Linked DNA regions of Homo sapiens. The protein of the gene in region 5 purifies or fractionates together with the protein of the main gene of each other region. This does not show direct contact. Each region holds a gene or a part of one and is shown on either strand. Other genes may lie near its edges. The genes, in order: KCNJ12, SLC12A6, ABCC10, MTARC1, KCNMB3, ZMPSTE24 and LTN1.

Evidence for each region.
Region 1: the proteins of KCNMB3 (region 5) and KCNJ12 purify together in Homo sapiens (affinity purification with mass spectrometry; one large-scale study listed by BioGRID and IntAct). This does not show direct contact.
Region 2: the proteins of KCNMB3 (region 5) and SLC12A6 purify together in Homo sapiens (affinity purification with mass spectrometry; one large-scale study listed by BioGRID and IntAct). This does not show direct contact.
Region 3: the proteins of KCNMB3 (region 5) and ABCC10 purify together in Homo sapiens (affinity purification with mass spectrometry; one large-scale study listed by BioGRID and IntAct). This does not show direct contact.
Region 4: the proteins of KCNMB3 (region 5) and MTARC1 purify together in Homo sapiens (affinity purification with mass spectrometry; one large-scale study listed by BioGRID and IntAct). This does not show direct contact.
Region 6: the proteins of KCNMB3 (region 5) and ZMPSTE24 purify together in Homo sapiens (affinity purification with mass spectrometry; one large-scale study listed by BioGRID and IntAct). This does not show direct contact.
Region 7: the proteins of KCNMB3 (region 5) and LTN1 purify together in Homo sapiens (affinity purification with mass spectrometry; one large-scale study listed by BioGRID and IntAct). This does not show direct contact.

The regions. Positions count from the first base shown.
Region 1 is NC_000017.11:21,382,377-21,386,511, reverse strand, and holds part of KCNJ12 (ATP-sensitive inward rectifier potassium channel 12), read right to left. Parts: intron 1-4,135. UniProt on the Homo sapiens protein: Inward rectifying potassium channel that probably participates in controlling the resting membrane potential in electrically excitable cells. Probably participates in establishing action potential waveform and excitability of neuronal and muscle tissues.
Region 2 is NC_000015.10:34,253,647-34,257,781, forward strand, and holds part of SLC12A6 (solute carrier family 12 member 6), read right to left. Parts: coding exon 3,996-4,135; intron 2,638-3,995; coding exon 2,583-2,637; intron 1,747-2,582; coding exon 1,616-1,746; intron 944-1,615; coding exon 702-943; intron 1-701.
Region 3 is NC_000006.12:43,437,161-43,441,295, reverse strand, and holds part of ABCC10 (ATP-binding cassette sub-family C member 10), read right to left. Parts: intron 3,363-4,135; coding exon 3,283-3,362; intron 3,277-3,282; exon of another isoform or gene 2,908-3,276; coding exon of another isoform or gene 2,906-2,907; intron 2,673-2,905; coding exon 2,501-2,672; intron 1-2,500. UniProt on the Homo sapiens protein: ATP-dependent transporter of the ATP-binding cassette (ABC) family that actively extrudes physiological compounds, and xenobiotics from cells.
Region 4 is NC_000001.11:220,807,045-220,811,179, reverse strand, and holds part of MTARC1 (mitochondrial amidoxime-reducing component 1 precursor), read right to left. Parts: intron 1-4,135. UniProt on the Homo sapiens protein: Catalyzes the reduction of N-oxygenated molecules, acting as a counterpart of cytochrome P450 and flavin-containing monooxygenases in metabolic cycles.
Region 5 is NC_000003.12:179,248,138-179,253,019, forward strand, and holds the start of KCNMB3 (calcium-activated potassium channel subunit beta-3), read right to left. Parts: upstream 2,978-4,882; 5' UTR 2,967-2,977; coding exon of another isoform or gene 2,899-2,966; 5' UTR 2,854-2,898; coding exon 2,606-2,853; intron 1-2,605. UniProt on the Homo sapiens protein: Regulatory subunit of the calcium activated potassium KCNMA1 (maxiK) channel. Modulates the calcium sensitivity and gating kinetics of KCNMA1, thereby contributing to KCNMA1 channel diversity.
Region 6 is NC_000001.11:40,268,025-40,272,159, reverse strand, and holds part of ZMPSTE24 (CAAX prenyl protease 1 homolog), read right to left. Parts: intron 3,742-4,135; coding exon 3,625-3,741; intron 2,186-3,624; coding exon 2,033-2,185; intron 267-2,032; coding exon 125-266; intron 1-124. UniProt on the Homo sapiens protein: Transmembrane metalloprotease whose catalytic activity is critical for processing lamin A/LMNA on the inner nuclear membrane and clearing clogged translocons on the endoplasmic reticulum.
Region 7 is NC_000021.9:28,930,559-28,934,310, forward strand, and holds part of LTN1 (E3 ubiquitin-protein ligase listerin), read right to left. Parts: intron 2,107-3,752; coding exon 1,912-2,106; intron 765-1,911; coding exon 597-764; intron 1-596.

The DNA.
Region 1 (4,135 bases), on a different chromosome or scaffold from region 5:
TAAAAAAAATAAATACAATAAAATTAAAAATTTGCCAGGCATAGTGGTGCACATCTGTAGTCCCAGCTACTTGGGAGATTAAGGCAGGAGGATCACTTGAGCCTGTGAGTTCCAGGTTGCAGTGAGCCATGGTTGACAGAGTGAGACTGTCTCATAACAGAAAGAGTGAGAGAGAGGAGAGGGAGAGGCAGCACAGGGAGAGGAGACCATGTGAAGACAAGAGGCAGAGACTGGAGATGCCCACAAGCCAAGGAATGCCAGGACCGCCAGAAGCCCCAGAAGTTGGGGGAAAGCCCCAGAATGGCTTCTCCCTCAGAGGCTCCGCGAGGAACCAGCCCTGCAGACACCGGTTTCAGACGTCTGGCCTCCAGAACGGATGCTGCATTTGTACTGTTTTAGGCCACCCAGTCTGTTATGGTGGCAGCAGCAGGAAACCAACACAGGGTCTCACTGGCTTGCCGCCCTCTGATCCCTGCCTCGGCTTTCTTTACTGGACCTGGTTGGTGGTGCTGCCAGACTCCTGCCCCAGTGCTCCTTCCACACCCCAGATGCAATGGTAGGCGTGTGGGTTTGCCCAACCCACTTTCTCTAGTGTTCCCATTTCACAGGGGAGGACACTGAGGCTCCCAGGGTTCCTGCTCCCCACCCACTGTCCTCCCAGTCTCCTCTCTATTACCTGCCTTTGATCTGGGGCATCCCCACCCAGCGGCAGCTGGTCCTAAGGCCACCAAGAGCCTGGTCATGAGCCCTGGTGCTGCAGAGTCAGGGCATCTACCGTGGGATGGAGGCCAGGACCCATGAGTGGCCTGGAGGCTGTGCTGGCAGGGCCCAGGCCAGCCTCCACCCTGCAGAGGAAAAGAGGAGGGCAGCGGGGTCTCCTCTGTTACACAACCCCCAGGGAGGGCCGGGGCCACTCCACGGCTACCTCCTGGGGCACTGCCTCCAGTGGTCTTCAAGGCTCCCAGGGCCTGGGGAGGGACCTGGCCGCTCTGACTGGGCAGGTGCTGCTGACAGCTTGCAGCCCAGCAGGCCGGGGTGATGGCAGGGCCGAGCCTCCGGCCACACAGCAGAATAGGGATCAAGGAGGCCAGGAAGCTGCCCTGTCTTGCCTGCAGTGCCCAAGCCCAGAGGGAAGGAGAGAACAGATGCCCAGACACGAGAATGGACTGCCTCCCCATTTCACAAACATGGAAAGTGAGGCTCATAAAAGAAGGGCACCAGGTATATCTGATCCCCACAGACACTGAGACAGATACTGAGAGTGACCACAGACTAGTCACTCTCCCAATCAGTGTAGCAGATCCTTTCTAATAAGGGGCCCTGGTGGAGTAAGGTGGGACCACCCTGATGCATCTCAGGCCAGGTTCCAAGGAATGACAAGGATGGGACAGGCACTGAGATGCGGAAGCTTGGAGACAGGTCAAAGTGACATTCCTGGGTCGGGCACGGTGGCTCACGCCTGTAATCCCAGCACTTTGGGAGGCTGAGGCGGGCGGATCACGAGGTCAGGAGATCGAGACCATCCTGGCTAACACGGTGAAACCCCGTCTCTACTAAAAATACAAAAAAAAATTAGCCGGGCGCGGTGGTGGGTGCCTATAGTCCCAGCTACTCGGGAGGCTGAGGCAGGAGAATGGCGTGAACCCGGGAGGCGGAGATTGCAGTGAGCTGAGATCGCGCCATTGCACTCCAGCCTGGGCGACAGAGTGAGACTCCGTCTCAAAACAAAAAAAAAAAAAAACAAACAAACAACAACAAAAAAAAAAACAAAGTGACATTCCCCACACAGAGGCCTGCCCCAGCCTGAAGACAGTGAGGGAACAAGTGATCCTGTTTCTAGGAGGTCAGGGCTAAGGGAAGAAGAGAGGCTAAAGGAAGAAGGACCCCAGTGGGAGCAGCAATGAGCGCCTCCCCTCCGAGCTCCAGCGTGTCTACTCTGCCCTGAGTGGGAGCCAGGTTCACCCAGAGGTCCCAAAGCCCCAGGCTGCGACTCTGAAGCCCCCCAGACCCTCTGAGCTCTGGGGATGGAGGCAGGGGATCTGGATTATCCCAACTCCCAGAGGGATGTGACGAAGGAGGCACCCAGGCGAGGACTCGGTACCTCTCCTGGTACTTAAACCAAATCCTGCAATCCAGGATCTCTGTCTCAACGCAGCTAAAATGACAACGAAAAGAACCCATGACTCACGGACTTCGGTGGCTCTGTGCATTCAGATGCCACAAAGATCCTACAGTCCCAAGACTCAGCCCTCAATCCATGCCCAGGACGACAGGATGAGACCCCCTGGGTCCAGTGGGCACGGGCACCACACAGCAGTGCGCATAGTGCAGGGGACGCCATGACATGTATGCAATGGTCCCATACGAATTTAAAAAAAGGCAACTTAGATATTAGCACGTTTCTATGCCTCCATTTACTTATTCACGTCTGCATAAGCACTGAGAAACCCAGAAGCCTCTCTAATGATGGTCACCCCAAGGACAAGAAACTCTGGGGGTGGGGGAGGCAGGGGGTGAGGAGGAGAAATTCACTTTTCCCCTTACAACTGTTTATCACTTTACTGTGAGCACATAACACTCTTATAATTAAAAACTGTTATATTCAACAAAATATGACAATGCCCGTGATGGCTCATGTGTTTTTTGTCTATTTCATCCTGCCCCACCCACTGAGATGTCAGCCCCCCAGGGCAGGGGTCTTGTGCAGGCCACATCCCCAGCCACCTGCTGAGCTCAGGAATGAGGCCAAAATCCTGCATCCTCAAAGCTCACCACGCAAATACCTGACCTCTAGGACCTCTAGGATTCTCTGAGAAGGGAAAGGAGGGGATGGAAAGAAAGGGACATCCAGGGGACAGGCTGGGGGTGGCTTGTGATTGGGGATCCCCAGGGCCAAACAGGTGGCTGTGACCCCTGAGTTTGCCCCTCCCAGGCCCTATTTCCACAAGACCCAAGACTGTCAGAAGCCCCACTTTTGAGCATCCCCAACCTGCCCCAGATCCCAGCACCCCTGGAAGCCCCAGGTCTCCATCTGCCTCTGCCCTCCCTGTGATCATGCCAGGACCCGCCCCCTCCGGCCACGCCAAGCTCCCCTGGACCCTCTCTGGCCTCGGCGCCCCCCAGCCCTGAATGGAAGCCTGGCTTGGCCCGGAACCAGGAGCCCCGAGGCAGAGGGTCGGGGCGGGGTTGGCTCGGCTGCTGCCACACAGAACGCCAGCTGCTGGCAGCGATTTATTTTTGCTTTAAGTGCTGGAGAATTGCAGGCCTGGAGCCGCCAGCTCGGGCCCGGCTGCAGCTGGAGCAAGCGGGGCGGGCAGGGGCAAGGGCACACCTCCGGCCACCAGGCCACTCCATCCCCCTTGACCTCTCCTGCCCCCGGCCTTTCATCCTCTCTATCATACACATCTCAGTCTCCACATGCTCCCTTCTCCCCGGCCCCTCCCCTGCCAAGTCCCCAAAAGCTGCCTGGAAGCATCAGGGACAGAGGGTCTGTGGCCTCAAGGCTGCGCCCCAGCCTTCCTCCGGGAACTGTGTGACCTCCGGCTGTGGGGACCCTCTCTGGCCTCAGGCTGCCCGCTCCCACAGTGGAGGTGTCACGTCGCACCCTCCTGTACACCCTTGGGGTGGAGGCAGGGAGGGCTGAGAAGTATCCCTGCTGCCAGTCCTCATGTTACCTGGTTTCCTTTTCTGCCCCCACTCCCCAGGTGAGCCCCAGGAGACAATCTCCCATCCTGGCACACCTGGCTGCACACCTGGCCAACCGGGCACACCTGGCTGAGGCCCAGGACCAGAACCTATCTGCTCCCCACAAAAGGGGCCACCAGCCCTGTCTTTTCTGAGGCAACATGGACATCCAGGGGAGGAGGGACGGGCAGTGCTCAGGCAAGCAGAAAGCATGCCAGTCTCTATAGTTGCAGAGGTGATCACTGCTGGCCACTAAAGCCGCTGGAGTTGATCATTGCAAATCATAAACATTTTTAAACATTTTATAACGTGGGTGTCATGTTCCAAAAAAAAGACTGGAAAGGAGAGGTGAAATGCATTGACATGAAACTCAATGACCGTGGGGAGTCTGGAATGCTTAACTGGGCAAGAAACAGAGACACTGTCCCCTCCCTGCCAGCCCCATCCCCTC
Region 2 (4,135 bases), on a different chromosome or scaffold from region 5:
TAAATCAACATAGAACCGATGAGTTTGATCCTCAGATAATCCAGATGACTCTTCAAGATAATTCTGTAACAAGACTACAAATAACACTGAGTGCCAGCTAGTCCCTATGCCACTAGTCAAAGGGAAAAGTGAGCCTGTGAGTCACAGATGTGCACAAATCCATTACTACTTCAAAAAACATACTTTAAAGTATTCGCACTAGGGAGTTGAAGGAGGTGGTGAATGATGAGAGAGTACTTAATGGGTACAAAGTACATTATTTGGGTAATGGATAAAAGCCCTGACCTAGGCTGGGCGCAGTGGCTCACGCCTGTAATCCCAGCACGTCGGGAGGCCAAGGTGGGCCTTATAAAGGTTGCTGGCAATAACTACACTGTCTGCAAAGCCCTTTATGAATAGTTCAAAATGTGTATAATAAAAAAAGATTATGTACAATTATCAGGGAGAAAAAAATCTAATATCTGAACCTAAATGATGGTTACAGCTACTAGTTCTATGCTTAGGACATAAGAAAGAGGATGAACGGGACATAGTTTGCTGGTAGGCTTCCTGCCTAGATGAGGAAGGAAGTCTAACTGGGCTTATCTGAGAGGGAAAATCTCAGAGAGACTCTATGAAATTCTGACTTAAAATTATCACACCACCAGATATTTTCAATTACTACCCAATAAGGATGGCTAGGCAGAGAGACAGACACGTACGGGAAGTGTGGAGGAGCAAAAGAAGACTTGATGGCTCCAGCATAGATGGCCAAGATGGACACAATGACACAGGCCAGGAAAAGTGAGGCAAACTTGTTCACATAGCGTACGCCGATAAATACCACTAATACCATAAGGACCAAGAAAGCTGTGCCGTAGACACGCATGTTATTTAGCATGGCTGCTGATTCCTTGAGTGCGTCATCACTGTGAAAGATGGCAGCTCGGGGGACGATATAGACCTGTTAGGTAAAAATAAAGGAGAAAATTAGGTTATTTCAAAATAATTAAGTAAAAAGGCTGTATTCGTTTGCATTTACTTTCACAAAAGAAAGCAAAGCTGAGAGAGAAAATGACTGGGGAATTAGCCTAGTTTCTAATAGGATCTGAAATGCCTTCAGAAATGGGATGTCATGGATTTTTTTTTTTTTTTTGGTCTACATGCTGTTCTGAATAACTACATTTCCAAATGGAAAGAAAGGAAAGGAACAAATTATTAATTTTATTCATAGGGTTATATAAAGTAATTATAATGATGATCTTTAACCCTGACTCTACTATCACTACTTTAAATAGTAAACAATATGTCTCAGTGAAGAGAGATATGAGAAGCATTTTATTTCATAGGGATGAAGATATCAAAAAAGATAAACTTTATTTTACTTTTTCCCCATTGGACTTGAACCTCTTGGATGAGGTGGCAGAGTGGTGGCAATCAGGTAGAAAGGAAGGGACAGGCAGGCAAACAGAATTTCAACCTTTCCACCTCATATTCATGTAAGAGGCCAACTGACGTTGGCAGTCAATCACCTGATTTATTCCCACAGCTGATCTCTCAGAAGCTTTCATAGCAAAGAATAAACCTAAATCAATATTTCTTCTATATTATAGACCACAATGAAGTCATTACTTACCAGAAAGATTTCAATGGCACCAAGGATGTACATGGCTGCTGCAAATGTGGTACCAAGATAAAAGCAGAGGCCAACAGCCCCACCAAACTCTGGGCCCAGTGCCCGGGAAATCATAAAGTATGAGCCCCCAGCTAAAAGACAAAACAGAAGGTGAATAGAAGAAAGAGTGTGTATTAGCAAGAGGAATATGAATAAAACAGAAATAAGAAAAAATATATACATAAAGGTTAAATGTTTCAGGCTTCTGCAAACCCTCAATGTGATAAAAAGATGTGCTAGTGGGAAGTAAAAGGTGAAAGTGTTATTGTGGGATATACTGCACAACTAATGTAATGAGCCATATGAAGCAATAGTTTGCCAGCATTTACTTAGAAAAAAATTAGAGAATATTTACTATGACATGAGACAGCCCAATAAAATATATTCTGGCTGGGTGTGGAGGTTCACGCCTCTAATGGTAGCACTTTGGGAGGATGAGGCGAGAGGATTGCTTGAGGCCAGGAGTTTGAGACCAAACTGGGTAACATAGTAAAATGTCACCTCTGTAAAAAAAAAAAAATAGCCAGGCATAGTGGTGTACACCTCTAGTTCCAGCTACTCAGGAGGCTGAAGTGGGAAAGCAGCTTGAGCCTAGGAGTTGGAGGCTGTGTGAGCTATGATCGTGTCACTGCACTCCAGCCTGGGTGACAGAGTGAGACTCTGTCTATAAAAAAATATATATTCCAACTAATAAAAGCTAAGAATGTGACTGAAATTAATGCATTCTAGTTTAAAAAATAAAGAGATTTTAAAGACGGCATCTTAAAGTCAAGTAGTATTATGTCTACGTCCTATAGACCATTACTCTGTTGTAGCACAGAACAGACCAAATAGTATTCTATTCTTCAGAAGTTTGCACCTCTAGCTTTATAGCATAAACACAGAGTCAACACTGATAAATCCTGAAATACAACCTTGACCTACTAACCTGGCACCACTCCATTAGTGGCAATGGCACTCATGGAGATAGCAGTCAACATTGTCTGCAGAGAAAAGGAAAGGAGAGGATTGTTACTGTGTAAAGATGACATTTCTATACTACTTCTCCATTTGTGTTCCAAGAGCACTTGGCAAACATTTAACTCTACCTACTTTTATGGACAGTCATACCTAATGGTATGGAAATAAGATGATATGGTCCAATTCATTGCGCTAGTCATACCACTAATATCTGGAGGATTCTGTCAAAATGCTCCCACATCAGTAGGTCAGGTGCTATTAAGAACTGCTAATCTCACTCTGGATTTCCTAGTTACACAGGAAATAGAGCATAGTATACTCAAAAGGAAGAACTAGAGAAATAACTCAGAAAATAGGTTAGAACCTGACTAAAGACTAAATACAATATCAAGAACAATGTTCAGTAAGAAAGGGAATCACTGAAGGCTTCTGAGCACACAGGAACCGCATTTTAAAAATATTACCCGGTAGCACAGTATAGAATGCGCTGCAGATAGGAGTAGCTGGAGGCCGAGTGATTGGTTAGCAGGCTACCATAGTAGTTCAGTGAGAGGTAAAAACTATAGTGGTGGTAGTGTGAATAAAAAGGGCTGAGTGTAAAAGATTTCAGAGAATAGATTAGCGTTGGTAGCTGATTAGATGTGAAAAGCAATTAAGAAGCCAAACACAGCCTTGAGGTTTTAAGCCTGAGACTAAAAAAAGGTGGTACCATGAACATTTTAAGTTATTAAAAATATGAACTGTGCCTGCTTAACCTGTTTTGCTCATCAGCTGGGGATAATATACAGGTAGGGTATAAAGGTCATAGTGATAAAAAAGGACAGTAGAAAACTATAAAATTCATAGGTGTGTCTGGGATACATAATGAGAAGTTTAAATTAAAGGAAGATAAAAATGTTCTCAGTAGAGAGAAGACCTGGAAAGAACATCTAAATTTCTAAGGAAGGGATAAGGGAAGAAACTTCAAAACCAAATAAAAAAACCAAATACCCCTCACATCCGCAATAACCTGTCTTGTTTCTCAATATATACTGGAGTGATACATCACATTTTCTAACACATTTTCTGTCACAACTTTGGTGCTATCAAGCTCAAATAGTTTGGATTCTGAATTCTCTGAAGACAGGAACTTTATCTTCCATTTTCAGTTGAAGTCTTGCTTTGTAATTTCTAGTACATCATATAATAGATAGCAAGCAGTGACTAACAGGCACTGAATAACTGAAAATCCTTTAGATTTTAATATCAGAATAATTTCTTCTGTTGAGATCATGAGTCCTTCCCTAAGTATTCTTTGTTTTATTCCCAAAGAGGTCATGTGCATCTGCTCTTGAGAACTTGCAACGTTCAGGTGATCTCTAGGAGCCAGTGCAGTACTTACACAGCAGCAGCAGATAAGGACAATTGCAAAAGCCTGAAGAACTCCAGCTGTGCCCACCACCCATGTAAGGCGTAAAAAAAGGATCACTCCAAAAATATTTTGTAGACATGGGAGGTAGACACCCATGAAGGTACCCATTT
Region 3 (4,135 bases), on a different chromosome or scaffold from region 5:
CCATGTTAGCCAGGATGGTCTCGATCTCCTGACCTTGTGATCCACCCACCTTGGCCTCCCAAAGTGCTGGGATTATAGGCGTGAGCCACCGTGCCTGGCCTATTACCCTGTCTTTTTAACAGGCAAGGTAGTAAGGTATCTTGGGCAGATTTGATGTAAAAGCTTTTATAGGTTTTTACTTTTTTGTGTGTGTGAGACAGAGTCTTGCTCTGTCGCCCAGGCTGGAGTGCAGTGGCATGATCTCAGCTCACTGCAACCTCCGCCTCTCGGGTTCATGCAATTCTCCTGCCTCAGCCTCCAGAGTAGCTAGGACTACAGGTGTGAGCCATGACACCCAGCTAATTTTTGTTTTTTTTGTTTGTTTGTTTTTTTTTTTTGTAGAGAAGAGATTTTACCATATTGCCCTGGGTGGTCTGGTATTTTTTTTTTTTTGAGACGGAGTCTCACTCTGTTGCACAGGCTGGAGTACAATGGCGCGATCTTGGCTCACTGAAACCTCCGCCTCCTGGGTTCAAGCTAGATTCTCCTGCCTCAGCCTCCCGAGTAGCTGGGATTACAGGTGCCCACGACCACGCCCAGCTATTTTTTGTATTTTTAGTAGAGATGGGGTTTCACCATGTTGGCCAGGCTGGTCTCGAACTCCTGACCTCATGATCTGCCCACCTTGGACTTCCAAAGTGCTGGGATTACAGGCGTGAGCCACCACTGTTAAGCCTGGCTGCCCTGGGTGGTCTTGAACTCCTGACCTCAAGCGATCCACCCTCCTTGGCCTCCCAAAATGCTAGGATTACAGGCATGAGCCACCACGCCTGGCCAATCATTCATTGCTTTCCCAAGTCTGCTAGGTCCTAGGTACTGTTGTAGGCACTAAGGAAAGAGATGAACAACAAAGCTTTTAGCTCAGGGGACTCACCATCTAGTGGATCACGGGTGCTTCCTCTGCGTGAGGAAGGGAATCCCTTTGCTTAGTAGCCCATTCCTGAGGCCACAAGAAGCCTTAGAGGTAGTACATTCCTTCTCTAAAAACCTACGAAAGCTGGGCCGGGCACAGTGGCTCACGCCTGTAATCCCAGCACTTTGGGAGGCCAAGGCGGGCGGATCACTTGAGCCCAACAGTTCGAGACCAGCCTGGGCAACATGGTGAAACCCCATCTCTACTAAAAATACAAAAATTAGGCAGGCGTGGCAGCTTACACCTGTAGTCCCAGCTACTCAGGAGGCTGAGGCAAGAGAATTACTTGAACCCGAGCGGCAAAGGTTGCAGTAAGCCGAGATCATTCCACTGCACTCCAGCCTGAGCGACAGAGCAAGACTCTGTCTCACACACACGAAAAAGTAAAAACCTATAAAAGCTTTTACATAAAATCTGCCCAAGATATCTTACTACCTTGACTGTTAAAAAGACAGGGTAGTAGGCCAGGCGCGGTGGCTCACGCCTGTAATCCCAGCACCTTGGGAGGCCAAGGTGGGCAGATCACAAGGTCAGGAGATGGAGACCATTCTGGCCAACATGGTGAAACCCTGTTTCTACTAGAAATACAAAAATTAGCTGGGCATGGTGGCACGCAGCTGTAGTCCCAGCTACTCGAGAGGCTGAGGCAGGAGAATCGCTTGAATCCAGGAGGCGGAGGTTGCAGTGAGCCGAGATTGTGCCACTGCACTCCAGCCTGGCAACACAGTGAGACTCCGTCTCAAAAACACAAAACAAAACAAAACAAAACGAAAATTAGCTGGGTGTGGTGGCTCACTCCTGTAGTCCCAGCCACTTGAGGGGCTGAGGTGGGAGGATCATTTGAGCCCGGGAGGCAGAGGCTGCAGTGAGCCAAGATGGCGCCACTGCATTCCAGCCTGGGGGACAGAAAAAAGACCCTGTCTCAAAAAAAAAAAAATTAATCAATTTTAAAAAAGTAATAAAAAGAATGACAGCTGGATACAGAATGCCCCATGGTCAAGGTTAAAAGTGCTCCTTTTCAGGGACATTCCACATTTACCTGGGTAGGGTAGTGGTGGTGACATTTCTGAAGGGGACAGCAGGGTTGGGTGGGAAGTCAAGGGAGAAATCTGGAATCTCTTCTCCTATAAATATAGTACTCTGGACTGGGGGCAAGGGGAAATCTAATAGCTTGGCAGGTTTCCCTAGGGTAACCTGCAACCAAATGAAACTTTGACTCTTCCAAGCCTTCCCAGTGGGAAGTGGGTATGGAGAAGGGGACAAGGAGCCAGGCTGTGCAGAGCTAAGCCCCACAGGTGGAACCCTCCCTAGCTCCAGAGGCCTTAGGGCTCTTCCCACAACTGTGCAGAACACACAGTCACCACCCTACTGGGCCCTATCAGAAGGGGCAGCTGGACACTCTGGGAGGACCACAGTCCGATGGCCATTCCTAGATAAGTGATGCCCGAGTAGAAGCAACCCCTTTCCAGAAAAGCAAAGCTCCTGGTTTGAGGTGTCAGGGACACTGGAGAAACAGGCAGCTAAGAGGTTTCAAGGCCAGGCACTCACACTGAGGTCATCATTGAGGGCGCAGGCTTCTAGCACCTCCTTGTACAGCTGTGCATCAAATGTCTTCCCAAAGAGGATGTTGTCTCGGATGGTGGCAAACTGGATCCAGGGTTCCTGGGTGGCCAGGCCAAAGCCCTTGGACAGCCCCCGCACTGCCACATGCCCACGCAGCCTGCAGAGAGCCAGGCGAGCAATATGAGGACCAGCTCTCCTCTGGGTCCCTCCATGCCCAGCCCTTGACTCCTAGAAGCCTCCCCAGGCTGCTGTCTTCTACACAGGGTCCCCCTTCATGTCACATGACTGAGATGGCAGCTCCTGAGGTCAAGGGGTCCTAATGAAGCCCATTCTGGGCGAAGAAGGGAAGAAATAGCTCTTTGGCTACAGCCAAGCAGCTGTTGTACTTACATCTGTTCAGGAGCTCAGTGGAGAGTATGGCCACCACATTGTACTTGTTCCCATCTGAAAACAAGGTCCTCCCTCAAACCTATGCTCCTCTCTGGATCCCTTCTCTGCACAGCCACATTTCTGAAAGAATAGCTGACACTGGATGTTTCCATTCCTTTGCTGACTATTATAGCATTTAAAACACTCTGGTGTAATGATTACAATGATTCGCTTTCTTGGCCACCTCCTTCTTTCCAGATTGAAAACTCTCCCAATAAAGGGACCATGCGTTGCTCTTCTTAGTACCCCTGACCCCCAAAAGGTGTCCAACACATAAGAGGGGCTCAGTGTTTGCTAAAGGACAAAGTAAGGACAGGGGTGCATAGGAGGTTGGTTACCTGTGGAGCTCTCCAGCGATGGCAGCCAGCAGGGAGCTCTTCCCACAGCCGACCTTCCCCACGATGCCCACCAGCATACCCTGCAAGGAAGCCACACAAGCATCTGCTATTGGTAGGAGACAGGACAGAGGTGGCAGTGGTCTCCCTCTTGACACTCTGGGCTGCCAGTCCTCCCACTGAGGCTTCTCTTTTCTTCTTTCTTTAGTGTGTAGGGAAAGAATTCTCCGCTTCACAGGCTGATCAACAAATCAGGCTCTAGAAAAGTAGGGTGTTTTTTTCTCCACTCAGAGTGGCTATCAGTTTCACTGTCTATGTGAAGGGCCTCTGAAGGGGAGCAGCATGCCAGAGAGAATGGGAGGAAACCACCCAAGAACTTCCAAGGTAAACTCTGAGACAGGCACTCCAGAACGGGAGAGGGAAGGGTAGAATTCCAGGCTTTAGGGCCTGGATGATGGGTTGGCTAAGTCGACCTGTGGCTAGAGTTACCATATCTCAGGGGAAAAAGCAGAGCTTTGCATAGATCCCTATTTCTGTGGCTTAAATTTTTCTGTTTACCTTTTTTTTTTTTTTTTTTTTTTTTGGTCATATGTTCATGGAGCTATCTCCCTGCTCAAAAAAATATAAAAAAAAAAAAGTCCTAGTTCCTTCTCTAGAAGGGACTGGGCTCTCAGAAGCTCTATCTGCCTGTGATGCCCCAACCCTGCCAGCCAGGGTTGACCCAGCTACAAGTGGGCACCACTTCTGAGACCTTTCCATGGGAATTTGGGATCAGGTCCCAGAGGCAGCTTCTCCTTGTTGGCTGTAACTTGTAAACTCGAGCATTCTCTGTAGTCACATCTTCTGCTCAGTGGAG
Region 4 (4,135 bases), on a different chromosome or scaffold from region 5:
TCATGACATTCTGAGATCTATCTGTCAGAGGGTGACCTCTTCAGGAACAGGGGACACATCAGCTGCTTGTATGGGTGTTTCCGTTGCTGCCAAGCTCTGCAGTCTAAGAGTCCAGACTCTCATTATCTTGGGGAGAAATTGAGAGTTGGAGTTCTGCGCATCACACATGGATAGTTTATAAGGAACTTTACACATGTTCTCTTTTTTAATCCTTACAACCTGCTTATGTGGGAATTTGCCTTTTCTTCATTTTACAGTTAAGTCTCAGGGGGAGTAACAGACTTGCCTGAGATCACAGATCTAAAGGATCCAGCTGGGGCCAGAGCCCAGGCCTGGCTGACTTCAGAGTCTAGTGGACTCTTCCCACCCAGGATGTAACCCTGGTCGTCGACATCCTCCTGAGTACACCCACAGGCCTGAGAAGAACCGAGGGGTCTCACAATTTAGTCACCTACACCAATTTCTAGCCACTTACATTTTTCACCTATCCCTTCCTGCCAACCAAGCACAGACACACTCACTCCCCCACCAGGTAATGAGGAGCAGAGGACCGTAAAGAGCGGCTGCCCCTCTCGGCACAGCCTCCCTAAACTGCACAGGTCGGGGTGAGGGAGCTGCTTTGTGAAAGTGCAGGTGTGGTCACCGGCTCACAGGTGGCGGTCCACTCCGCTGTCTAGGAGTAGAAGCGGGAAGAGCTATGGGAGTGGAAAAGGGGTTCTCGGTGGGCCGGCCTGCCAGGGCTTTCCTACAGCTGCCTGGTTTTGCTGCGGGCTCTCACCGCCTCCTGCACCACCTCCTCTTGCTACTGCTGCGGAAGCCCGCCTCCAGGCTGTGGGAAGACTCAACGAGGTCACTAGCGGCGCCTTGTGGCACTAAGAGGTATTGCAAGCAGTCTATGAATTCGTGCGCACACTAAGTTCAACACTCTGAAACAGTATTCTTTCATACATGGGTCTTCTACGATTTTTTAAATATGTGACTTTTCATATATGTATTCCTGTTGGTATTAATAAATTAAAACTCATTTAAAATCTTCCTTAGTGCACTTTCTCCTTAAATGAACATGAAACATAACTATTCTAATGAGCAGGAAGCCCAAGACACTTTATTTAGCTTAAAACCGAGGTCTCTATTATTTACAAGGTGCAATGTAAATGGAAACAGTTTGTTACCGTTAAAGTGCTGTGCACCACAGAGGGCTGATCCTTGTTTACCCTGCCTGGTTTACGCATTCACTGGTCAACGTCCAGGCCATGACTCCAGGCAGAGTATCTGGTCACTGCCCGATCCCACCACTGGCGTTCATGGGACCATAAGTCACCAGCGGCAGAAGCCATTCCTGAGGCCTCATGACTGCCTATCTCTATGGCCAGGTTAAGAATTAAACAGCATTGTTAATCCCAATACTTTGGGAAGCCAAGGCAGACACGTCACCTGAGGTCAGGACTTTGAGACCAGACTGGTCAACATGGTGAAACCCTGTCTCTACTAAAAATACAAAAATTAGCCAGGCGTAGAGGCGCATGCCTGTAATCCCAGCTACTTGGGAGACTGAGGCATGAGGATTGCTTGAACCCAGGAGGCGGAGGTTGCAGAGAGCTGAGATTGCTCCACTGTGCTCCAGCCTGGGTGACAGAGTAAGACTCTGTCTCAATAAATAAATAAATTAAATTAAATTAAATTAAATTGAAGAATTAGACGGCATCGTGAACGTTCCTGGGAGAGGTGCCACACTGAACCTCCAGAGGCTGGCCGCTGGGCAAGTTCGTGTTAGGTTTCATTTAAAGCAGCCTCTGAGTATGGGAAGAAGTGTGGTCAGGCTTCTCCTCCTCTCAGAAGGTGTCAAGTTTATAAACAGTGACTCTCAATGACCGCAGCTTACATGGTCACTGTGTACAGTATTTTATCATCTATAAAAATCCTATATCTTGCCTTATTCCAGTCTACCAGAAGAGGTATTACAAGTCCAGTTTATACCAATAAAGAAACTGTGACTTGAAGAGCCTAAGCGACTTGCCAATGTCACACAATTAGGAGGTGACAGAGCCAGACTAGGGTGGAGAGTCTGCCTCCTCCCATGGAGTTACCACTGCTATATATTCTGTGTTTAGCTCAGCAGAGCACAGCCTGACACAAGTGGCTGCTGGCAAATGTCATTACTGTCACAGTATTCGTGCATCCAGCAAAACGTTTTTTTTTTTGAGTACCCATGCAGTAACTGTGCTATATTCTTTCCATTAGGGGCAAAATGTCATGGAAGCAACAACGGCAGACTCCAGCCATTCCTTCAACCATGGGGATCAGTGTGTACGTCACTTTCCCTTAAGAAAGAAAAGAAAAATTCCATTTTCATATCTTCCTGTTAGCAGACATGCCTCCACTGTGCCTCCCGCTGTGAGCATTTTACAGACAAAGGCTTCCCTATGCCTCTGTATTTCTTTTCCTCCCACTGCTGTACCACCGCGGGCTCTGCCTGTGGGTGACTAACATCAGGAGGCAGGGCTGGTCAGGCACAGAGGTCTCCCAGCTGAGCGCTGGCATTCCAGAAGCAACCCCAGCCATGGGCACCATGAGTGCCCAGAGGCAGAAAGTGGTGTAGCTCTGAGCAACCTGCCCAATAGCAGAGAGGCTGTGGACACCACTGTTTGCTTCCCTTCCCATGATTTATGGGATGTGGCCAGGCCTTTCTCTTCCCGATTTATGACCACCTGTCTTGGGAAGAACATAAATTACACATCCATGGCAATTTAAATCTCAGTAAGAGATAGGAGAAGACACCTAGGCTGGCCGCACTGTCTCCTGGGGTATTAGAAGCAATTAGGGCCAGATTGTTGGGCTTCACAAAGCCTGCGGAAGATCAGGGGGGTGTGCTGGCTCCTTGCGCCCCCCGCCTTCCCACCCTCACTCTGTGTTTAGGGTCAATTATCCTCCTTCTATAAACACAGGCTCCCAATGGAGGAAGGGGGGCACTGAAGATGCAGAGAACAAGCCCAAACACGTGAAGTGCTTTGCGGAGGCTGTTTCTGCAAGAGCATAAACCTTCTAAATCCAGAGGGAAGGATGCCCCACACCGAGCAACACACAGGGGGAAGAGAAAGAACAAGATGGACAAAAAAGGATGACAGCCAATTCCCCAAACCACTTGGCTGATTTACACAGAATCATCTATTTCTGTCCTGCCTCCTTTATTTTATAGGGAAGAACACTCAGGGTCTGAGTGCGGGCAGGGGTAGGAGCACAGCAGTCGGTGTGCTGCACATCCAGGTCTCCTGACTCCCAGCCCGGGATCTTCCCGCTGGCCCACCCTGCTTTCTGCCCCTAGTAGCTCCTCTGTGGCCATGGAAAACAGGAAGACTGAATTCTGGTTTGTTCTGATGGTGAGTGAGCGCATTTCAAAGAATAGCTATAACCCTGGTCCTCTCATCAATGTTCTGTCACATATAGTGACATTTCCCCCCAAAATTTTACTATGAAAATTCTCAAGCAGGCAAATGGTGAAATAATTTTACAGCAAACACCCATTTACCCGCTGCTTGAATTCTGAGCTTAACACTTGACTATATATATTTGTTTTTTTGTTTGTTTGTTTGTTTTTGTGAGACAGAGTCTCACTCTGTCATCCAAATTGGAGTGCAGTGGCACAATCTCAGCTCACTACAACCTCCACCTCTCGGATTCAAAGGATTCTCCTACCTCAGCCACCCGAGTAGCTGCAAATACAAGTGACCACCACCATGCCCAGCTAAGTTTTGTATTTTTAGTAGAAACAGAGTTTCACTATGTTGGCCAGGCTGGTCTCGAACTCCTGACCTCAAGTTATCCACCAGCCTCAGCCTCCCAAAGTGCTGGGATTACAGGCATGAGCCATCGTGCCTGCCCTTGACTATGTTTTCTTTATCACACATGTATCTATCCATCAATCCACTGTATTGTCTTTTTGCATTTCCAAGTAAGTTGCAGACACCAGTACATTTCAACTCTGAACAGTTCAGCTTGAATATTATTACCTAGAGTAAAAACCATTATTTGCTTTTTTTTTTGAGGTGAAAGTTACATGGAATGAAATATACCAATCTTAAATGCTCCACAATATTAGCTTTTTACAGAAAAGTTGTTAATGTTTTGAGTATTGAGA
Region 5 (4,882 bases):
AAGTCTTACGTCAGAATGACAGGCATATTATTTACCGGCTATGTGAACTTGGGCAAGTTACTTGGCCTTTCTGAGCCTCAGCTTTCTCATTTATAAAATGAAAACTAAAATAACACTTCCATCATGGGCTGCTGTAGGTTTAAGTAGGATAAAATATAGTATGTATTGAGCATACAGCATATACTTAATAAGTAGCAACTAAAGTTGACCCTTGAACAATTCAGGGGTTAGGGATGCCAACACCACACCCCCAAACCTGCAGTCGAAAATTTGCATATAACTTTTGACTCCTCAAAAATTTAACTACTGGTCAGGCATGGTGGCTCATGCCTGTAATCCCAGCACTTTGGGAGACCAAGGTAGAAGGATGACTTGAGCTTAGGAGTTCACGACCAGCCTGGGCAACATAGGGGGATCCCATCTCTACCAACAATTTAAAAATTAGCCAAGTATGGTGGCACACACCTGTGGTCCCAGCTACTTGGGAGGCTGAGGCAGGAGGATCGCCTGAGCCCAGGAGGTCGAAGCTGCAGTGAGCCATGATTGAACCACTGCACTTCAGCCTGGGTGACAGAGTGACACCCTGCTTCAAAAAAAAAAAAAAAAAACTTAACTACTAATAGCCTACTGTTGACTGGAAGCCTTACCAATAAACAGTTGATTAAGACATATTTTGTATGTTTATATGTATTATATACTGAATTCTTACAATAAAATAAGCTAGAATAGCCAGGCACAGTAGCTTATGCCTGTAATCCCACTGACTCAGGAAGCTGAGGTGGGAGGACTGCTTGAGCCCAGGAGTTCAAGACTGCAATGAGCTGTGATCACACCACTGCACTCCAGTGTCACAGAGCAAGACCCCGTCTCTTTTTTTTTTTTTTTTTTTTTTTGAGACAGAGTCTCGCTCAGTCACCCAGGCTGGAGTGCAATGGCGCAATCTCGGCTCACTGCAAGCTCCACCTCCTGGGTTCACACCATTCTCCTGCCTCAGCCTCCTGAGTAGCTGGGACTACAGGTGCCCGCCACCGTGCCCAGCTAATTTTTTTGTATTTTTAGTAGAGACGGGGTTTCAGCATGTTAGCCAGGATGGTCTCGATCTCCTGACCTCGTGATCCACCCATCTCGGCCTCCCAAAGTGCTGGGATTACAGGCGTGAGCCACCGCGCCTGGCCCAACCCCTTCTCTTAAAAAAATAAATAAATAAGCTAGAGAAAAGAAAATGTTATTAAGAAAATCATGGCCAGGCATGGTGGCTCACGCCTGTAATCCCAGCACTTTGGGAGGCCAAGGCGGGCAGATCACAGGGTCAGGAGTTCAAAGGTCAGGAGTTCAAGACCAGCCTGGCCAACATGGTGAAACCCCATCTCTACTAAAAATACAAAAATTAGTGGGCATGGTGGCAGGCGCCTGTAATCCCAGCTACTCAGGAGGCTGAGGCAGGAGAACTGCTTGAATTCGGGAGGCAGAGGTTGCAGTGAGCCAAGATCGTGCCACTGCACTCCAGCCTGGCGACAGAGCAAGACTCCGTCTCAGAAAAAAGAAAAGGAAAGAAAATCATAAGGAAGAACAAGATCATGTCATTTGCGGGGACATAGATGAAATGAAGCTGGAAGCCATTATCCTCAGCAAACTAATGCAGAAACAGAGAACCAAACACTGAATGTTCTCACTTAAAAGTGGGAGCTGAATGATGAGAACACATGGACACCTAGAGGGGAGCAACACACACTGGGGCCTCTCAGTGGAGTAGGGGGAGGGAGAGCATCAGGAAGAATAGCTAATGCATGCTGGGCTTAATACCCAGGTGATGGGTTGATCTGTGCTGCAAACCACCATGGCACACGTTTACCTTTGTAACAAACCTGCACATTCTGTACATGTACCCCGGAACTTAAAACAAAAATTGAAGAAAAAAAATCATAAGGAAGAGAAAACATGTTTACTATTTACTAAATGGAAGTGGATCATCATAAAGGTCCTCTCCCTGTCCTCTTCATGTTGAGTAGGCTGAGGAGGAGGAGAAAGAGGAGGGATTGATCTTACTGTCTCAGGGGTGGCAGGCACAGAAGAAAATCCATTTATAAGTGGATTCCCGAAGTTCAAACCCATGTTGTTCAAAGGTCAACTGTATCACTACATATATTGAATAAAGAACCTAATTAAAAGGAAGGAAACTAATATGTATTGAGCAACTACTATGTGCCAGGTAGACACTGTCAAACTCAAAAAATTCAGACTCAAAAAACTTTTATTGTGCTCACATACAAGGTTTAACTCTCTCTTGGAATACCAACATTTTAAGGGGAGGATTTATGACCTAAATGAAGAAACTATAATTTGTGGATTACGTGTTTGGAGGTATATATAGATTATGAGATGGGAGGAGGCAGTGCAGGGAAATATCTTTGACCTTCTCGCCACCTCTTCCTCCACACCCAGCTGCCCCCAGCACTGACAGCGGAAGAGGAATTGTATTTTTCTTTTTCTAGACCATGGCAGAGAGTCACAGATTGAGAAACCAAAGCCAGCCTCTCCTCCTTTACCGCTGTGCCTGGATCTTATCTGAATTGGAAACTCTAGATTTCCTTCCTCTGTTTCTTACCTGAGCATAAAAGGCTTTAGAATGGTTGTTCCGAGCAAGAAGAACATTAGGACTGAGAAGCCCATCATGGCAAACCCCAGCATCACGGCTCGGTCCTCTCCAGCACTGGATGGCAGCCTCTTGTGCACATCTAGTGGGTCTCCATCACTGTAGTCTGTCTCTCTCTTCTTCCCTGAGGCAGGAAAGGCTGTCCTTTGGGGAAAGGGAGAAGGAGATACTGCAGTGAGCTCATAAAGAAGGGGGAACATTTCCAATCCATGGGGACTGGAGGGATAATCTCATTTGCTGCCTACCTGTGTCTCGTGAGCAGGATGAATGCAACAAAATGAAATCCCAGTTCAGAGCTTGGTGAAAAGTCCATCTAAATAAGCTAAAGTGATGTGTAATCAAGTATTTTTAAAGATATTGTAGCAAACAAGCCTAAGAAATGTTGCCTCATGCAAGTCTGTAGAGATCTGTTTAATCAATAACTAGAGAATGTTGTATGTAAATAAGTGTTACGAACTTTGTTATCTTTCAGGGATATTGCACGTCCCTCCTGAAAATTTGTTTACATTCTCCTTTGAATTCCACATGGAAAGAATGACTCAAAAAGTTCACATTTGGAATTAACAGCGTCCTGAACAGGGTTTGACTTATTCTTTCATATTCACCTGTTGGAAAGGCAGCATATCCACCACCAGAATTTCTGGCCACTGCCCAGTCCACTCAGAATTATGAAGTTGTCATGGCTTCTTTGCTCCTCTCACCCTCCTTCTCCTCCTCTCTGGCCACTCATGGTTCTGCATAAGTGTCCCTTCATTTCTTCTCTCCTCTCTCCACTGTGCCTGCAAACCTGCTCCAGCAAAGGATGAGATACATTCTCGCAGGGCAGGGTGTCTGGTGAACAGAAGAGTCCAACACAAAGGTCGCAAACCGGTGGGCATGGCGGCATCCAGCCCACAGATGTGTTTTGTTTGGCCTTCTCTGTCGTTTTTTGTTTTTGTGTTTTTTGGTTTTTTTTGAGACGGAACCTCGCACTGTTGCCCAGGCTGGGTACGATCTCAGTTCACTGCAACCTCCTCCGCCTCCCAGGTTCAAGCGATTCTCCTGCCTCAGCCTCCCTAGTAGCTGGGATTACAGGCGCCGGCCACCATGCCCAGCTAATTTTTGTATTTTAAGTAGAGACAGTGTTTCACCATGTTGGCCATAATGGTCTCGAACGCCTGACCTCATGATCCACCCACCTCAGCCTCCCAAAATGTTGGGATTACAGGCGTGAGCCACTGCACCCGGCCTGGTTTATTATTATTTTTTTAATGTGGGATAACTTGTTAAGACCTTAAAAATCATGACATTTCTCATAAAAATGCTGAGTTCTGACTTTGGAAATAATCCCAAGATGCACGTCCCTGCAGATGAACAGCGGGCCCAGCAGAGCAGTGGCTGCCCCTGTGGAAGGTGTGTTCTCTAGTTTGCCAAAATCCCTCCACTTCCTACAGTGTCACTGATTTGCCATTCCCTGCTCAGTAGCCATTTGAGTTCCAGAAGTATCTCCATTTTAAGAAGCTTAATGAAATCTTAAGCCAAACAAATGCAGCACTAATGGTAGAAACACAGGCTCCATCAAGCTTCCTAAAAGCTTACTGCATTTTAAAGTCAAGCAAAAACCCCATCAAGGAAATTACTGGTTGTTTTTTTCCCACAAGCATAGTTTATGCCTTATCCCACATCCTTCCCCTTCCCTCTCCCTAGCTCCCTTTTCCCCCAGCAACATCTTTAGGTTCTAAAGCGAGTAAAAGGAATGTCAGACAATCCAGAATGTTCCAAGAGCCTGTGCCAGGAAGCACCAACCTCAGAAGGTGGGGCACTCCATGGTTAACACTTCTTTGGGACCCGAGGATCTAGTTTAGGAATTTTTAGTTGTCTTTGATATTTTACTCATCCCCTATCATCCTACCACCAGAGAAGGGGCATGGAAAAAAAATTTAATGAAATTTGAACCTGTACTTTTTTTTTTTTTTTTTTGAGATGGAGTCTCCCTCTGTCACCCAGGCTGGAGTGCAGTGGGGCAATCTCGGCTCACTGCAACCTCCGTCTCCCGGGTTCAAGCCATTCTCCTGCCTCCGCCTCCTGAGTAGCTGGGACTACAGGCGCCCACCACCACGCCCGGCTAATTTTTGTATTTTTAGTAGAGACGGGGTTTCACTGTGTTAGCCAGAATGGTCTCCATCTCCTGACCTCGTGATCCACCCACCTCGGCCTCCCAAACTGCTAGGATTACAGGTGTGAGCCACT
Region 6 (4,135 bases), on a different chromosome or scaffold from region 5:
AAATAACAAATTTTAAAAAGAAAAAAACAAAAACTGATTAATTCTTTTATTAAAATTTTAAGAATAAAGTATCAAATAAAACAAACCACTTGGATAAAACTTTCTTATCCCCAGGTAGCCTTACCTTCCACAACATACACCTTCGTCAAAGGAAAGTCAATACTCTTTGCCATTACTTCAATTTCTTCTTTAAGCTTTCCCTCAGGCAGAGGTGTGAATTTGTCAAATAAAGGGGCAATATAATCAGCATAGATTGTGACAAGAACCTGAAAAGTAAATGTCAGAATAACATATGAACATGTTCTTAAAGAAAAAACATTCTTTATTATACAGATTAAATTATATTAAAACAACTATGTTGACCTCAAACTTGAGAACAAGGAACTTACTTGCTCTGGTATTCCCAGGCCCAAATAGTACCAGATAGTAAGAGCATAATATCTGTCTGATGAATTAAATTGAAATGAGTAGTCTGATAACAGAGTAAACTTATGAATTTTATTTTAAAGGATAATGCTACTAACAGTGATTAAAATCTCTAGGTGGTAATAAGTATAGTCCTTTCAAAACTATCTTGGGGATTTCTGATGCTTCATGAGTCAATCATAACACGCAGTTCTACCTTTTAGCGTAATCACAATAGACCTGAAGTCTTTCCCAAAAAAGAATTAGTAGAACTTGATTGTGTGCTGTTACTTGGTTGGCTTATCAGCTAAAATTAATTACCTGTAGTTCATAATTGTACAATGTGGTTGAAATAGCACTTCCTTAAGCATTTTTAGAGCATTTTCTCTGCTCTTTTTCATCTTACTTTAATTTGCCATACAATAGATACCTGTAAATCCAACTAGCGCCCATTTTCTGATCTTGATCCCATCAATGGAAAATGAAACAATGAGCATTATGTAATTCAGACTAAAATAAACCTCAGCTTGGGCATGGTGTCACACACCTGTAGTCCCAGCTACTCAGGAGGCCAAGGCAGGAGGACTGCTTGAGCCCAGGAGCTCAAAGCTGTAGTGCACTATGATCATGCCTGTGAAATAGCCACTGTACTCCAGCCTGGGCAACACAGGGAGGCCCTATCTCTAAAATAAAATAAACCTCATCAGTGGAGCTGAAGAGCTGATAGATGATAATTTCTGGGTGCACTGAACAGACCACTTTGGGTTTTTTCATTTGGGTTTTTTAAAAATTATTATTTGTAGAGACAGAGTCTCACTGTGTTACCCAGGCTGGTCTTAAACTCTTGGGCTTAAGCAATCCTCCCACCTTGGCTTCCCAAAGTGCCAGGATTACAGGCATAAGCCACTGTGCCTGGCCCTGAACAGACCATTTTGACTGCGTTGTAGTGTTTGTGTTGTGAAGCACTTGAGAGTATGGAAAGAGAAGAGGAATAGGAGATGTGAGGGAGGGAAAAATCAGGGGGAAAAGAGTGAGAGGGAAAAGGAAAGGAGAAGAGAGGCAGGAATAGGTGGCAGTTGGGGAGAAAAGGGAAGACAGGAGAAGGAAAGGAAGAAGAATGGGTAAAAGATAGAAGGGGAAGGGGAAGCAGATGGGGCAAAGAAGGGAGAGAGTGTCTAACGTGGAAGGGAAAGGCAAGGGAAGGGAAGCAGAAGAAAGCCAGTTAAGTATATGCTTTCTTTCTCTTGTCCCTCTTAAATCTCATTTCTCTTCAAAATAACCATGATTTTAGGCAGTGGAGGTCAGTCAGGAGTCATTAAATTATCACACTTAGTCATTCTGGTGGCAACTCGCAAATGCACAACCCAAAACTGCCTGACAACTGAATCATTAAAAGTGACTAACAACTAGTTTCTATGACCTGAAGAGTTAGCATAAGGAGAAGGAAATTTATGGTCAGTCAATACTCCTGTGTCTACAATCAAAAGCAGAAACCAAGGGGGAAATGTATATAAGCACCTATTTATATTTCAGCTGCTTCTTAAGAACTGTTTACATGCCAATGAAGATTACAGTAATCTCACCAAGGAACTTTTGCAAAAGAAAACGAAATAAAGATTTTACTCACCAGAGACACAACTAATGTGAACAGCCAGGCATAAATAAAAAAATAGTCACCCCCAATTTTAATAATGTAAAGTAGAAGTGAAGACACAGGCAACAAAATACACTGAGTCACAACAAATTTCTTGATTGCATCTTTCATGAAGAACCCCAAAGTCTGCAAAAAGAAAACATTACCACAAGAAACTGAGAAACTGGTTCTGCTTTTTAAAATAACTGATAAATAAATACAAAGGATACATTATTAAAGCAATTTTTAAAATTAACATGCAGTGAAACTATATTATATGACATTAGGCAGCTTAAGACAATGGGTAAATGTCTTGCATTTTACAGCTGAAAATTCATTTAAACCTTATTAACTGAGGACGAGTGCAGTGGCTCACAACTGTAATTCCAGCACTTTGGAAGGCCTAGATGGGAGGATTGCTTGAGCCCAGTAGTTCCAGGCCAGCCTGGGCAACATAGTGAGACCCTGTCACTACTAAAAATAATAATAAAAAAATTAACCCAGTGTAGTATAATTCATCTATAGTCCCAGATACTAGGCAGGCTGAGGTGGGAGGATTGCTTGAATCTGGAAGGTCGTGGCTACAGTGAGCCATGATCCTGCCACTGCACTCCAGCCTAGGTGACAGAACGAGACCCTGTCGCAAACAAACAAATGATTAGTAGCTGAAAAACAATAGATATTAGTGCTAAAGGAGTTTATAACATAAATTTCTTTTTTTTTTTTAAGAGACAGGTCTGGCTCTGTTGCCCAGGTTGGAGTACAGTGGCACAATGATGGCTCACCGTAGCCTCAACCTCCTGGGCTCAAGCAATCCTCCTGCTTTAGCCTCCCAAGTAGCTGGGACTTCAGGTGCATGCCACCACAACTGGCTTTTAGAATTTTTTTGTAGAGATGAAGTCTCACTATACTATCCAAGCTGGTCTTGAACTCCTGAACTCAAGTGATCCTCCCGCCTTAGCCTCCCAAAGTGTTGGGATTACAGGCGTGAGCCACTGTACCCAGTCAAGACTTTTTTTCTTTCTTTTTTTTTTTTTTTTTTTTTTTTGAGACGGAGTCTTGCTGTCACCCAGGCTGGAGTGCAGTGGCGAGATCTCAGCTCACTGCAAGCTCTGCCTCCCGGGTTCACGCCATTCTCCTGCCTCAGCCTCTCGAGTAGCTGGGACTACAGGCGCCCACCACCAAGCCCGGCTAATTTTTTGTATTTTCAGTAGAGACGGGTTTCACGGTGTTAGCCAGGATGGCCTCGATCTCCTGACCTTGGGATCCACCCGCCTCAGCCTCCCAAAGTGCTGGGATTACAGGCATGAGCCACTGGGCCTGGCCTTAAGTATTTTTTTTTTAAAATCAGTGTTGACCAGGTTGGCCTCGAACATGTAGCCTTGCCTCCCCGAGTGCCAGGGCAACTGGCCAGAGCCACCGCGGCCCCCAAGACTTTCAGCTATGATCTTTACCATATCTGTAGTTCCCTTTTTTCTCAATTCATACTCTGAAATAGTAAATTATGTTTAAATTATAAACAGTACAGGACAAAAGCACAGAAGTTTTTCACATTTAAAAGAGAACATTTGTATTCTTTATTATACCTGTTGATTGAAGCCATGTTTTTCTTCTATCACAAAAGTATTATAAAGACTCCATGGCAAACCAGTCAATGCACTGAAAAGTGTAGCCAACAGCAGAAACACCAGGGACTGAGTGATCTAAACAAAAGAAAAAACAAAAATCCAGTTTTTATGAACTACTGGCAAACAAATCAACAAGTATTTGCTGAGCACTTACTTACTACATCCCAAGCAATATGCTTGATTCTATGGATAACATAAGGTCTGAAATATCATCCCTGCCTTCAAAAAAGTTTACTTTTGAGAGAAGTAAATGAGAAACAAAACAATTCCTTTTTTATTACACAGGCACTATATGAAAGGTACCTTAAATCATACAGACAAATCCCTAAGATAAAGAGCCTGGATTCTTGGCTTACCACATGGAAGAAAGTCACCTGATAACTAAAAATACTCACACTGGACTATTACGTGATTGAGAAATAAACCATTGCAAATAAGCCTGTGATATTCTGGGATTTGTTATTGTAAC
Region 7 (3,752 bases), on a different chromosome or scaffold from region 5:
TCTAACATACATCATAAAGTACACATACATCTATAGTAACCTTCAAATGATAAAGTGAAAAGGGAAGAACAATAAAATTTTTGCTCTTTCTGTTATCTCCAAAATTAACACAAATTGAGTATTACTTCCGATGGCTACACTAAGTTCTTCCTACTTAGGCTCATGCACACAATCACTAAGATATAAGAAATCTCCTGTGAAACAAATGAACAAATGGCAACTTCTTTTTCAGTATGTTTAAAAAGAGCACAGGGCTCTGATGCCAGATGGCTTCCAGTACCAACTCCTGTACTCTCCTTCATGGTCTAGATCTCAGAAGACCTTCTACTTCTTGAGTGGTAAAAGGTCACTGGAAACACCCATTTATTAGAGGGCCTTGATTCTACCAGTCTCAGTAAACTGCTAATTATCTTTGGCAGATTTTAAAAAATCACTTTTTAATATATCTCCCATTAGCTACAATTAAGTTTAACACACATTTTCTCTTCCGAAGTTAGACATTGTGTAGGTGTGTGTGTGTGTGTGTGTGTGTGTGTGTGTGTTTATGTGTATAAAATACATAAAATATAAGTAAGTTAATTTCTCTTTAGACTTACCAAGCAGGCTGAATGGAATTTTTTCTTGCATGTTCTACAGGCTTTTTTGGGAAGGGAATAGTTGAAACCGTGAATGACTGAGAAACAGATCATGCAATCTTCAACACCCTCAAAACGTTTGTCTACGTTATTTTTCCATAAAGCTAAGCCTTCCATAATACTTCCATTCTGTTAACAAGAAGAAAAATAAGTCACTACACACTGATAACCACCAATTTTATTTTTATTCAATTTCACAAATTTTAAAGTTGAATTACAATTCTGAAAGAAGAGAATCTGCTTGGCTATGTTCATGTCTCCCAACTTATGAATGTTGGTTTTTAAAATAACCTCCCAAGTTTTTGGAACCAGATGTAATTTTTCTCCATTAAAGACATACTTTAAAGGCTTCTGGACCAATACTTAAAGTGTTATAGTCTAAGCTTGTTGCTTGATAAAACTCTCTTAATAATTAAATCATTTAGGTTAGTTCTAATGTTTAACTGAAAATGATGAAATTATCTCAAATGATTTGTTCCAGCTCTACAATATTGGTGAGCATATTTGTTTTAAAATAGTTTTTCTTGGCCGGGAGCGGTAGCTCAAGCCTGTAATCCCAGCACTTTGGGAGGCTAAGGTGGGTAGATCACTTGAGGTCAGGAGTTCGTTGACCACCATGGCCAACATAGTGAAACCCCATCTCTACTAAAAATACAAACAATTAGCCAGGTGTGGTGGCGGGTGCCTGTAATCCCAGCTACTCTGGAAGCTGAGGCAGCAGAATCGCTTGAACTGGGAGGCAGAGGTTGCAGTGAGCTGAGATCATGCCATTGCACTTCAGCCTGGGCAACAAGAGCAAAAACTCTTAAAAAAAAAAAGTTTTTCTTTATTGTAGAATGCCTGAGATACACAATGTGCACACAGAACTGAAGATTTAAAATGTGTTTAGAGGTCAAAGGTCTTTGAGGGTCCTGGGACTTCTCTAACCAAAGAGGAGTTGAAATGTAAGAATAAAAGTGAAAGTAGCTCAGAAGGCATTCATCTGTCCAGTATCTTTCAAAACATCCTCTCCGAAACAATTTTGTTAATACACCTTCTACAGTGTTAATGAAATAAAGTCAATCCCTCTCAAACACCAGAAAATAAATTACAGAACCTTAACAATTAAAACAGAAAGGCAGGTTTAATCCATTTAGGCATATCTCTGTATTTATCCAAGGAAGTTTAATATCTACTTTTATCTTAAGCAGAAAAGATATATTTTATGTTTAAATGCCCTTTTAAATAGATCATCTTTTCCAAGTTTGTAAAGCCAAATGTGTAAACAGAAACTTACCTGATGGGTGAGGTAAGTGCTTAACTGCAGCATCCAGTTCCGCCACTGCTGAACAGCTACTCCTACTCTTTTCCCACTTTCTACTATTATTGAACCCAGTGGATAATTTGAAGGCAGTTGTATTATAAGTTCAATAACTATGTCCTCAATAGTATAAGTAGCCATTACCTCTCGAGTAGTAGCTCGAGCTTTAACCTGCAATACAACAAAGGATATTTTGTTTGCCAAATTTCTGTCTTTCAACCAGAAAACATTTTGATAGGTTGACTATTAAAAGCTAAAGACTTCATTCAAGGACAGTGCAGGTAAATACATTCACTTATCTGACATGAGATAATTAAGAAATACGTTTAAATACCTGCCTGGTATATTTTTACAGTGATTTTGTGATATTCAAAGTTTGTTTTAAAAGAAATTAATTGCTCATAAAAAAGGTTTTATTATATTAGGCTTGTCACATAATAGTTCAATAAACCTTGAATAGATAAGTGACAGAATGGGTTATTATGCTTCTCTTCCACACCCAGAGTATCGAATGTCACTTCTACATCTAACAATTCTTCCTCTACCATATTATCCTCCTGAGCTTTGGAGCCAACTATCAACTGTCAGAACATTTATAGTTATTTGTTTGGTTTTCAAACCAACATTGCAAACTCAACATAAAACGCACACATTATTATCCTTTACAAACTTCATCTTCTGAATTTCCTACTTCCAGGCTAAAAAATCATGATAGCTCATTTTAAATTTCTGCTTCTACCTCATCCTAGATATTAACTAAATCACTAGCACAAAATCTCTCACATCCCTACTTTTATATTCCCACTGTTACTGCCTCACCCATGCCCTAGTCCTTTGCTCATGTCTACCCCAATAGTCTCCTCTACCATTCATTTGAATCCAAACTGTTTGCCAACAGATCATGCTATAGATTGTGGTCAGAGCAATTTCAAAGATTTTAACTCTGATCATGCTACTGCCTGAATGAAAAATGTTCAGTGGCTGAATTGTACCACTTTAGACCGTTATTTGAGGCCCTTCCCAACATACCTCTTATTCACCGTTGATTCTATTCACCCTTGGGACTCCTACGCATTATTTGGGTTGGAGTACTGCATTATTTATCATTTCCTGGGCAACGACTGAAATGACATTCTCACTTCTATGCTTTTTGCTTTTGCAATACTATTCTCTCTCTCTCTCTCTTTTTTTTTTTTTTTTGAGATGGAGTTTCACTCTTGTTGCCCAGGCTGGAGTGCAATGGCGTGATCTCGGCTCACCACAACCTCCGCCTCCCGGGTTCAAAAAATTCTCCTACCTCAGCCTCCCGAGTAGCTGGGATTACAGGCACGTGCCACCACACCTGGCTAATTTTGTATTTTTAGTAGAGATGGGGTTTCTCCATGTTGGCCAGGCTGGTCTTGAGCTCCCGAGCTCAGGTGGTCTGCCCGCCTCGGCCTCCCAAAGTGTTGGGATTACAGGCGTGAGCCACCACACTCGGCCTATTTTCTTTATAGTAAATGCCATTCCCTTCATTTTCCCCATAACAAAATCCTGCCCACCTCCAAGTGATTTTCTTCCATAAAATCTCACTTAATCCCCTCAGCCAGATGAATCTTTCCCACTCAGATCACAAGGCACTCTTTCTCTTAATATGCTACTTTCCAATGCAAAAATAATTATCAGTCTCGCTCTTTTCCCTTTATTAGACTGTATGTTATTACAGGACAAGAATCTGGTCCTACTAAACTGTTCATATCCTTGGTGACTGGGACACAGTGCTTGGCATCTGTAAGTATTCCAGTACAGATTTTGAATGAACTAATGAATGCTCAAAA